Homo sapiens: one gene and its partner. The protein of the gene in region 1 purifies or fractionates together with the protein of each later gene. This does not show direct contact. Each region holds a gene or a part of one and is shown on either strand. Other genes may lie near its edges.

Region 1 (5,369 bases):
GTGATTCTCCTGCCTCAGCCTCCCGAGTAGCTGGGATTATAGGCATGCACCACCACATCTGGCTAATTTTTGTATTTTTAGTAGAGACAGAGTTTCACCATATTGGGCAGGCTGGTCTCGAACTCTTGACCTCAAGTGATCCACCTGCCCCATCTTCCCAAAGTGCTTGCATTACAGGCATGAGCCACTGCACCTGGCCTGTGTGCCTCAGTTTTCTCATTTGTACAGTAATAGAAACAACAAAATTCTGAACATTTCTGGTCTTGGAAGATGCCCGCTGTCTTCCCCCCTGCCCCCCAGAAAAGGCAGGATTATTACTTTTCAGTTGATCTATTTCATCTCTTTAAACTGGTTAAGACAATAGCGAAGACTTGGCCGTGTGTGGTGCCTCACACCTGTAATCCCAGCATTTTGGAAGGCCGAGTAGGGAGAACCACTTGAGTTCTAGATGAGCCTGGGCAACATAGCAAGACCCCTGCCTCTACAATTAAAAAATTAAAAATGGCCGGGCGCGTTGGTGCACGCCTGTAATCCCAGCACTTTGGGAGGCCGAGGCGGGTGGATCACTTGAGGTCAGGAGTTTGAGATCAGCCTGGCCAACATGGTGAAACCCCGTCTCTGCTAAAAAATACAAAAATTAGCCAGGCTTGGTGGTGGGCACCTGTAATCCCAGCTACTCAGGAGGCTGAGGCAGGAGAATCGCTTGAACCCAGGAAGCAAAGGTTGCAGTGAGTCGAGATCGCACCACTGTACTCCAGCCTGGGTGACAGAGTAAGACTCTGTCTAAAAAGATAAAAATAAAAATTAAAAAATTAAAAATTAGCTGGGCATTGTATTGCAGGCCTGTAGTCCCAGCTACTCAGGAGGCAGAGGCTGAAGGATCGCTTGAGCCCAGGGGAATGAGGTTACAGTGAGCTATGATCCTGCCATTACAGGCCAACCCAGAGAGATCCTATGTCAAAAATGAATAAATACCCTGGTGTGGTCGCTCTCGCCTGTGATCCCAGGACTTTGGGAGGCTGAGGCGGGAAGATGACTTGAGTCCAGGAGTTTGAGACCAGCCTGGGCAACATGGCAAAACCCCATCTCTACAAAAAAAATACAAAAAATTAGCCGGGTGTGGTGGCGTGGGCCTGTAGTCCCAGCTACTCAGGAGGCTGAGGTGGGAGAATTGCTTGAGTCAGGGATAGGGAGGTGGCAGTGAGCCCATATCGTGCCACTGCACTCCAGCCAGGGTAACAGAGCAAGAACTCATCTCAAAAATAAAAAATAAAAATAGGTGGCTGGGCGTGGTGGCTTACACCTGTAATCCCAGCTACTTGGGAGGCTGAGGTGGGAGAATCACTTGAACCCAGGAGGTGGAGGTTGCAGTGAGCCGAGATCGCATCACTGCACTCCAGCCTGGAAGACAGAGCAAGACTTTGTCTCAATAATAATAATAAAAATAATAATAGTCCAGGCACAGCTCATGCCTGTAATCCCAGCATTTTGGGAGGCCGAGGCAGATGGATCGCTTGAGGTCAGGAGTTGGAGACCAGCCTGGCCAACATGGCGAACCCCAGTCTCTACTAAAAATAAAAAATAAAAAAAAAAAAATTAGCCAGGCATAGTGGTGCGCACCTGTAATCCCAGCTACTCAGGAGGCTGAGGCAGGAGAATCGCTTGAACCCGGGTGTCAGAAGTTGCAGTGAGCCGAGATCAAGTCACTGCACTCCAACCTGGGTGACAGAGTGAGACTCCATCTCAAAAAAAAAGAAGAAAAAAATAAAAAAGAAAGACTCGTTGCCCAGTGCTCCCTCTGGGAGAAGTACATCCAAGGCCCTGGCCCTGGGAGAAAGGCTCTGGCACTAACCCCACCCTTGACCTTTTTCCTGGGCGGTCCTGAAGAATGTTCTGTCCCTTCTCCAAGGCCCCCAGCTGGGACGGCCCAGGCGCCTATAAAGGGGGTCCCCGCTTGGCCCCGGCGCCACCCACCACCATGGACCCCCGTCTGCCCGCCTGGGCGCTGGTGCTGCTGGGCCCTGCCCTGGTGTTCGCGTTGGGCCCCGCGCCCACCCCAGAGATGCGTGAGAAGTTGTGCGGCCACCACTTCGTACGCGCGCTAGTGCGCGTGTGCGGGGGCCCCCGCTGGTCCACCGAAGCCAGGAGGCCTGCGACCGGAGGCGACCGTGAGTGGGGACGGGCAGGGACAGCGCTCTGGGAAGCCGAGGTGGGGCAGGTGCACGTAGGCGCAGATGCACACGTGCAGGGAGGTGGGCAGGTTTGCATGCATGTGCCCAGGGCTCACCTGCCGGCTGCGTGCACAGATCGTGGGTCCGCACTGGAGTGTGTGTGAACGCGCGTGTGAAAGTCCCCAGAGCCGTTAGCCAGGCGTGGTGGCTCACGCCTGCAATCCCAGCACTTTGGGAGGCTGAGGCGGGTGGATCCCCAGAGGTCAGGAGTTCGAGACCAGCCTGGCCAAAATGGTGAAACCCCATCTCTACTAAAAATAATTTTTAAAAAAATTAGCCGGGGATAATGATGCACATCTGTAATCCCAGCTACTTGGGAGGCCAAGGCAGGAGAATCGCTTGAACCCGGAAGGCAGAGGTTGCAGTGGGCCGATATCATGCCATTGCACTCCAGCCTGGGCGACAGAGTGAAACTCCGTCTCAAAAAAAAAAAAAAAAGAAAGTCCTCAGAGCATGAGTCCCCCTGAGGGGCCAGAAACAGAGTGAGGCAGGAGAGGTAGGCTCTTGCAAGTACATGGTGAGATCCTGTCTTAAAATTTCAATATTTTGATCTTCATGAATTTTTGCCTTAATTTTGCTTTGTTTGTTTGTTTTTTGAGACAGGGTCTCACTCTGACGCCCAGGCTGGAGTGCAGTGGTGAGATCTCGGCTCACTGCAGGCTCAACCTCCTGGGCTCAAACCATCCTCCTGCCTCAGCCTCTGGAGTGGCTGGGATACAGGTGCTGCCACCACACCCAGCTAATTTTTTTTTCTTTTTCGTAGAGAGGGAGTCTCACTCTGTTTCCCAGGCTGGTCTCAAACTCCTGAGCTCAAGTAATCCTCCCACCTTGACCTTCCAAAGTGTTGGGATTAGCGATGTGAGTCACTGTGTCCAGCTTTAAAAGTATTTAAAAGTATTGCTTTTGAAAAGTATTGCTTTTCACAATTATGTTACTTTATTTTATTATTTTATTTTTATTTATTTATTTTGAGACATAGCCTCGCTCTGTCACCCAAACCAGAGTGCTGTGACGTGATCTCGTCTCACTGCAACCTCTGCCTCCCGGGTTCCAGCAATTTTCCTGCCTCAGCCTCCAGAGTAGCTGGGACTGCGGGCACGCACCACCACACCTGGCTAATTTTTGTATTTTGTTTGTTTGTTTGAGATGGAGTCTCGCTCTGTCACCCGGGCTGAAGTGCAGTGGCACGATCTCAGCTCACTGCAACCTCCGCCTCCTGAGTTCAAGCAATTCTCCTGCCTCAGCCTTCCAAGTAGCTGGGATTACAGGCCACTCCCCAGGTCACCCACTACCATGCACAGCTGATTTTTTTTTTTTTTTGTATTTTTAGTAGAGACAGGTGAACAGGTGAAACAACAGGTTTCACCATGTTGGCCAGTCTGGTCTTGTTTTGTTTTGTTTTGTTTTGTTTTGACATTGAGTCTCGCTCTGTCCCCCAGGCTGGAGTGCAGTGGTGTGATCTCGGCTCACTGCAAGCTCCGTCTCCCGGCTTCACGCCATTCTCCTGCCTCAGCCTCCTGAGTAGCTGGGACTGCAGGCGCCTGCCACCAAGCCCAGCTAAATTTTTTGTATTTTTAGTAGAGATGGGGTTTCACCATGTTAGCAAGGATGGTCTCAATCTCCTGATCTCGTGATCCACCTGCCTCGGCCTCCCAAAGGGCTGGGATTACAGGCATGAGCCACTGTGCCCGGGCCAGGCTGGTCTTGAACTCCTGACCTCAGGTGATCTGCCCGCCTCAGCCTCCCAAAGTGTTGGGATTACAAGCGTGAGCCGCTGTGCCTGGCCTTTTTACAAATATTTTAAATTTTATTTTAAAAGTATTGCATTAAAATACTTACCTTGCTGGATGTGGTGGCTCATGCCTGTAATCCCTGCTACTCAGGAGGCTAGGAGGGAAGATCACTTGAGGCCAGGAGTTTGAGACCAACCTGGGCAATATGAGACTCAGCCTGAGACAGAGACCCTTGTCTCAAAAAAGGGAAAAATATTAATATTATTATTATTATATATATATATTTTGAGACAGGGTCTCACTCTATCACCCAGGCTGGAGTGCAGTGGCGTGATCTCGGCTCATTGCAACCTCTGCCTCCCAGACTCAAGCAATCTGCCCACCTCAGCCTCCTGAGTAGCTGTGACTAGCTACTCTCAGGCTGGTGAGACCAGCCTGGCCAACGTGGCGAAACCTCGTCTCTACTAAAAATACAAAAATTAGCCGGGCGTTGTGGCGCACACCTGTAGTCTCAGCTACTCAGGAGGCTGAGGCAGGAGAATCACTTGAACCCGGGAGGTGGAGGTTGCAGTGAGCCAAGATCACGCCACTGCACTCCAGCTTGGCAACAGAGCGAGACTCCATCTCAAAAAAAAAAAGCTGATGCTGACATTTGGGGATGTATATGGTAGTGGGGCTGTCCTGTATATTGTAGGGTGTTAGATAACATCTCTGTCTTCTGCCCCCTAATGCCATGAATAGCCTCACACCCCATCCAAGTTGTGACATCTAAAACTGTCCCCAGACAAGTATCCCCTGGAAACAAAATCACCCTGGTTTGAGAACCACTGGTGTCAATTGTAAACTGCAGATTGGGTAGAGGGTAAACAACCCTCTAAATTTTCATAAGTCCTTTTTTTTTTCTTTTGAGACAGTCTTGCTCTGTCACTCAGGCTGGAGTGCAGTGGCACGATCTCGGGTCACTGCAGCCTTGCCTTCCCAGGCTCAAGCGATCCTCCCACCTCAGCCTCCCAAGTAGCTGGGACTACAGGCATGCAGAATTATGCCCAGCTAATTTTTGTATTTTCTGCAGAGATGAGGTTTTGCTGTATTGCCAAGGCTGGTCATGAACTCCTGGGCTCAAGCAACGCACCCACCTAGGCTTCCCAAAATGCTGGGATGACAGGTGTGAGCCACGGTGCCTGGCCTCAAAAAAATATCCTGATGGCTTCGTGCCTCCCTGTCTGTACCCTAGTCCTGGCCCTGGTGCAGGGATATACGACAAGTTTGTGCAGATGTGTTAACACGTGTCCACATGTCTCTGTGTGCCACTCCACTTGCGGTGTTAGGGATCCAGGGGAGGTGGTCTGCAAGGGTGTGTCCTCGTAGGGGTGTGTGTGTGTCTGTGGGTCCACCACACATGCGT
Region 2 (4,910 bases), on another chromosome or scaffold:
AATGGGTCCTGCTTGCCTAATCTTCACCGCCAGGTACTATACTAAGTGCTTTCCCTGGATACTCTCACTGAATCCTCACAATAATCCTAAGTGGTAGGATTACCCTGTTTCACAAACGAAGAGGTTGAAGTTCAGCAAGATCAACAGTTTGCCTAAGGTTAGTAAGTAGCACCCCTGTAATGTAGAAACTGGTTAGGCTGACAGGAGAGGTCATGCTCTCTCCATCATGTTCCACTGCTCTCATATCAAGAAAAATGAATAGGCCGGGCGCAGTGGCTCACGCCTATAATCCCAGCACTTTGGGAGGCTGAGGCTAATGGATCACTTGAGGTCAGGTGTTCGAGACCAGTCTGACCAACATGGTGAAACCCCGTCTCTACTAAAAAAATACAAAATTAGTCAGGCGTGGTGGCACACACCTGTAATCCCAGCTGCCTGGGAGGCTGAGGCAAGAGAATCGAACTTTGAACCCAGGCTTGAACCCAGGAGGCGGAGGCTGCAGTGAGCCAAGATTGCGCCACTGCACTCCAGCCTGGGCAACAAGAGCAAAACTGTCTCAAAAAAAAAAAAGAAAAAAATGAGTAGGGGATTCCTACACAGGCAGAAAGCAAGTCTCAAGCCTATCTAAGATTCCATAAGCCTTGGTCTTTCTTTCAGTTTCTTAGAGTGGTTGAGGCAGAATGGTGAGAACTAGACAGATTAGGTAAATCAGGTGACAACACAGAGACAACAGCTATATATTTTATATATTTTTAGAAATATGTGTTCTAAACAAATATTTTTAGAGTATGCCATTTAAAATAAAATAAATAACTTAAAAACATGAAGAGACTGGCCCAGCACAGTGGCTCACACCTATAATCCCAGCACTTTGGGAGGACAAGGTGGGAGGACTGCTCAAGCCCAGGAGTTCGAGGCCAGCCTGGGCAACATAGTGAGACCCCGTCTCTACAAAAAATCATTTGCTGGGCATGGTGGCACACTCTAGTCCCAGCTACTCGGGAAACTGAGGCAGGAGGACCCCTTGAGCCCAGGAGGTTGAGGCTGCAGTGAGCCGTGTTCACACCACTGTACTCCAGCCTGGGTGACAAAGTGAAAACCTGCCACTCAAAAAAAAAAAACTTTAAAAAAATTAATATGGAGATTTTCAACATGATTAATAAGAGATTGTAAATTAGATACTATCCATTTGGCAAAAAAATTAAGTTTGATAGCACCAATATTGGCAGCATGTGGGAAATCAGTACTCATTCATTACCAGTAGGAGTGAAACTGGTTTAACCTCCACAGAGAAATTTAGCAATCGCTATCAAAATCTTAAATGGATGTAAACTGTTATTCAACAACTATACTTCCACAATGTCAACAAAATTAAAAAAGGATTTAACCCCAGGACACATTATTAAATAAAAAAATACAAAGTTCAGAATAGTGAGTATAATATAATATACTACCGGCTGGGCGCAGTGGCTCACGCCTGTAATCCTAGCACTTTGGGAGGCCGAGGCGGGTGGATCACGAGGTCAGGAGGTCAAGACCAGCCTGGCCAAGATGGTGAAGCCCCGTCTCTACTAAAAAAAATACAAAAATTAGCCGGGCGTGGTGGTGGGCGCTTGTAATCCCAGCTACTCGGGAGGCTGAGGCAGAGAATTGCTTGAACCCAGGAGGCGGAGGCTGCAGTGAGCAGAGATCGCGCCATTGCACTCCAGCCTGGGCAACAAAAGCGAAACTCCGTCTCAAAAAAAAAAAAGAAACAATCGTTATCTATAGGGTGGGGAAGTAGGGGGCTACAGGCCAGATGAGAAAAACTCACTTTTCATTGGATACTCTTTTGTGCCTTCTGAATTTTGTACCATGTGCTGTACTAACATTCAAAAATAAATAAATGAGCTTATTCTTACTTACCTTCATGAGGCTTTCTGAGCAACCAAGTGACTTGAGAAATAAAGTAAGCCTAGTAAATTTTTCCCCTACTCAAATAGTTTCAAATTCTTTTTTGCTGCCAACTATCTTTAATAGAGATAATAACCAGTCATCTAAGCTGATTTTTCTTTTGGTCAAATCACCAATGTAGAACTGGCCAGTCCAGAAACAGCTCTACATGCTCAAACATAGGGGCTGGATCCTAACCCCTCAGGCCCTAGAACCAGGATGGGGAGGCCGCATTAAGCTGGATGCATGTCCTAAATCAAGAATCACTCACCCGGTCATAGGTGTCCCCCTCCAGTTCTCCCCATTTCCTGCCATCCCATGAGGTAACTCGAACTTGATTTCCATCCCTGATCTCTTCAGGCACATAGCTGTGAAGGATCTTCTGTAGTCTGGCTATTCGGGACGGGGAGAGATCATTGGCAGCAAGATTGCCTATGGAAATAAAGATACTTCAGAGGCCATGACCCAATGAAACATTCCACCAGCAATGGCGCTGATGGAGTCAGACCAATTCTCAGGTAGTCCCAGCCAATGCAAACCCCAGCATCAGGAACATTTATTATGTGCATGGCACAGCATCAGTCATTCTGAGTGGGGGTACAATGGCAAACACCTAAATGGGCCAGAAAGTATCAAAGTTATTTAAGTCAATGAATAAAGCAGACCAAGTAAGACTCCTTTCCTTTCTCCTTTCCTGTCCTCTCTCCCCTTTCTCCCCTTTCTTTCCCCTTTCCCCTTTTCCTTTCCCCATTACTTTCGCCTTTCTTCTCTCCTTTCCCTCTCCCCTTTCCTCCCTTTCCTTTCTCTCCTTTTCTTTCTCTCCCTCTCTTTCCTTTTGTTTTTTTTTTAAGACAGAGTCTCATTCTGTCGCCCAGGCTGGAGTTCAGTGGCACACTCTCAGCTCACTGCAACCTCCACCTCCTGGGTTCAAGTGATTATCATGCCTTAGCCTCCTGAGTAGCTGGGACTATGGGTGTGCACCACTATACCCGGCTAATTTTTGCATTTTTAGTAGAGACAGCATTTCACCATGTTGGCCAGGCTGGTCTTGAACTCCTGACCTCAGGTGATCCCGCCTGCCTTGGCCTCCCAAAGTGCTAGGATTACAGGTGTGAGCCACTGCACCCAGCCACATTCTTTTTTTTTTTTTTTAAAGACAGGGTCTCTGAGTCTGGGCATAGTGGCTCACGCCTCTCATCCCAGCACTTTGGGAGGACGCCAAAGTAGGTGGATTGCTTCAGCCCAGGAGTTCAAGACCAGCCTGGGCAACATAGCGATACCTCATTTCTACAAAAATAAAAATATATTTAAATAATTTTTTAAAAAGAGACTGGAAGGCCAGGCACGGTGGCTCACACCTGTAATCCCAGCACTTTGGGAGGACAAGGCAGGCGGATCACAAGGTCAGGAGATCGAGACCATCCTGGCTAACATGGTGAAACCCCGTCTCTACTAAAAATACAAAAAATTAGCCGGGCATGGGGGTGGGTACCTGTAGTCCCAGCTACTCGGGAGGCTGAGGCAGGGGAAAGGCGTGAACCCGGGAGGCAGAGCTTGCAGTGAGCCGAGATGGCGCCACTGCATTCCAGCCTGGGCGACAGAGCAAGGCTCCATCTCAAAAAAAAAAAAAAAAAAAAAAAGAGACTGGGTCTCACTATGTTGCCCAGGTAGGTCTTGAATTCCTGGCCTCAAGCAATTCTCCCACCTCAGCCTCCCAAAGTGCTGGGATGATGGGTGTGGGCCACCATGCCCAGCCAAGAATATTTATTTCTAAAAAAATATGCTCTCCCACTATTCTGGAAACCTATGGCTCTCTTCATCTTTGGTAGATACTACAGTTTATTTAGCCAAAATCATTCTCCTCTTCCTCCTTATTAATAGAACCCCAATTTTTTGGAAGGGGAAAATTGCCCCAAAAGACTACATTTCTCAACCTTTCTTTAGTTTCGCTCTTGTTGCCCAGGCTAGAGTGCAATGGCGCGATCTCGGCTTACCATAACCTCCGCCTCCCGGGTTCAAGCGATTCTCCTGCCTCAGCCTCCCGAGTAGCTGGGATTACAGGCATGCGCCACCACGCCGGCAAATTTTGTATTTTTAGTAGAGACGGGGTTTCTCCATGTTGGTCAGGCTGGTCTTGAACTCCCGACCTCAGGTGATCTGCCTGCGTCGGCCTCCCAAAGTGCTGGGATTACAGGTGTGAGCCACCACACCCGGCTAAGCCTTTCTTTTACAACTAAGTATGACTATATGACTAACTTTTGGTCATAGTTGTAGGCATAAGTATTGGATAGGAATTCTGGGAAGATATTTTTAAAAGGCTGACATAATTGGGAGATGAAATGAGTCTCTTTTGCCCAATCCTTTCCTCTTGACTCAAATATGGATGTGATGGCTGGACTTCCAGCAGTCATTCTGGACCATGAGGCCTTGCCTTAGAGCTTTACTAGTTACATATCTTCTCCCTCTTAAAGGGAGGGAGGCTAAGGCTGACACTAGCAACAAAATACGTTGCAAAAGGAAAAAGGGAGCTTAAGTCCCTGATAATTGTGGAGCCTCCATACCTGGAGTGCCTATATCTCAGCTTCTCTTATGTAAGAGATAAATTAATGTTTCCTCTTTAAGCCAATTAGTTAGGTTTTCTATCAAATGCAACCAAACCTAATTCTGATTTACCATCTACCTTTCATTTTCTCTTTATTGGTAGACATGAGTTCAAGAAATATCTCACTTTGCTCTTAGTGCTACTATGAGAAAAATATTGCAAGCTTGATGATAAATGACACTTGATACCTGGCCTCTGAGTCAAAGAACAACAAGGTAGGGTGGGAATGGTAAAGAATGCGAGATGCAAGTGTCCACCTTATCTAATAGTGGTCACTACTATGAACCAGCTTAGTAATCCCATAAATAAATGTCTCCTTTTTTTTTATTTTAATGAAGATGAGGTCTATGTTGCCCAGGCTAGTCTCGAACTCCTG

What was found. The genes of interacting proteins can lie anywhere in the genome.
Region 2: the proteins of INSL3 (region 1) and NSUN4 purify together in Homo sapiens (affinity purification with mass spectrometry; 3 studies listed by BioGRID and IntAct, with this or other methods). This does not show direct contact.

What each region holds. Positions count from the first base shown.
Region 1 is NC_000019.10:17,818,116-17,823,484, reverse strand, and holds the start of INSL3 (insulin-like 3 isoform 2 precursor), read left to right. Parts: upstream 1-1,965; 5' UTR 1,966-1,978; coding exon 1,979-2,168; intron 2,169-2,994; coding exon of another isoform or gene 2,995-3,089; intron 3,090-5,369. UniProt on the Homo sapiens protein: Seems to play a role in testicular function. May be a trophic hormone with a role in testicular descent in fetal life. Is a ligand for LGR8 receptor.
Region 2 is NC_000001.11:46,350,322-46,355,231, reverse strand, and holds part of NSUN4 (5-cytosine rRNA methyltransferase NSUN4), read right to left. Parts: intron 2,365-4,910; coding exon 2,204-2,364; intron 1-2,203. UniProt on the Homo sapiens protein: Mitochondrial RNA cytosine C(5)-methyltransferase that methylates cytosine to 5-methylcytosine (m5C) in various RNAs, such as rRNAs, mRNAs and some long non-coding RNAs (lncRNAs).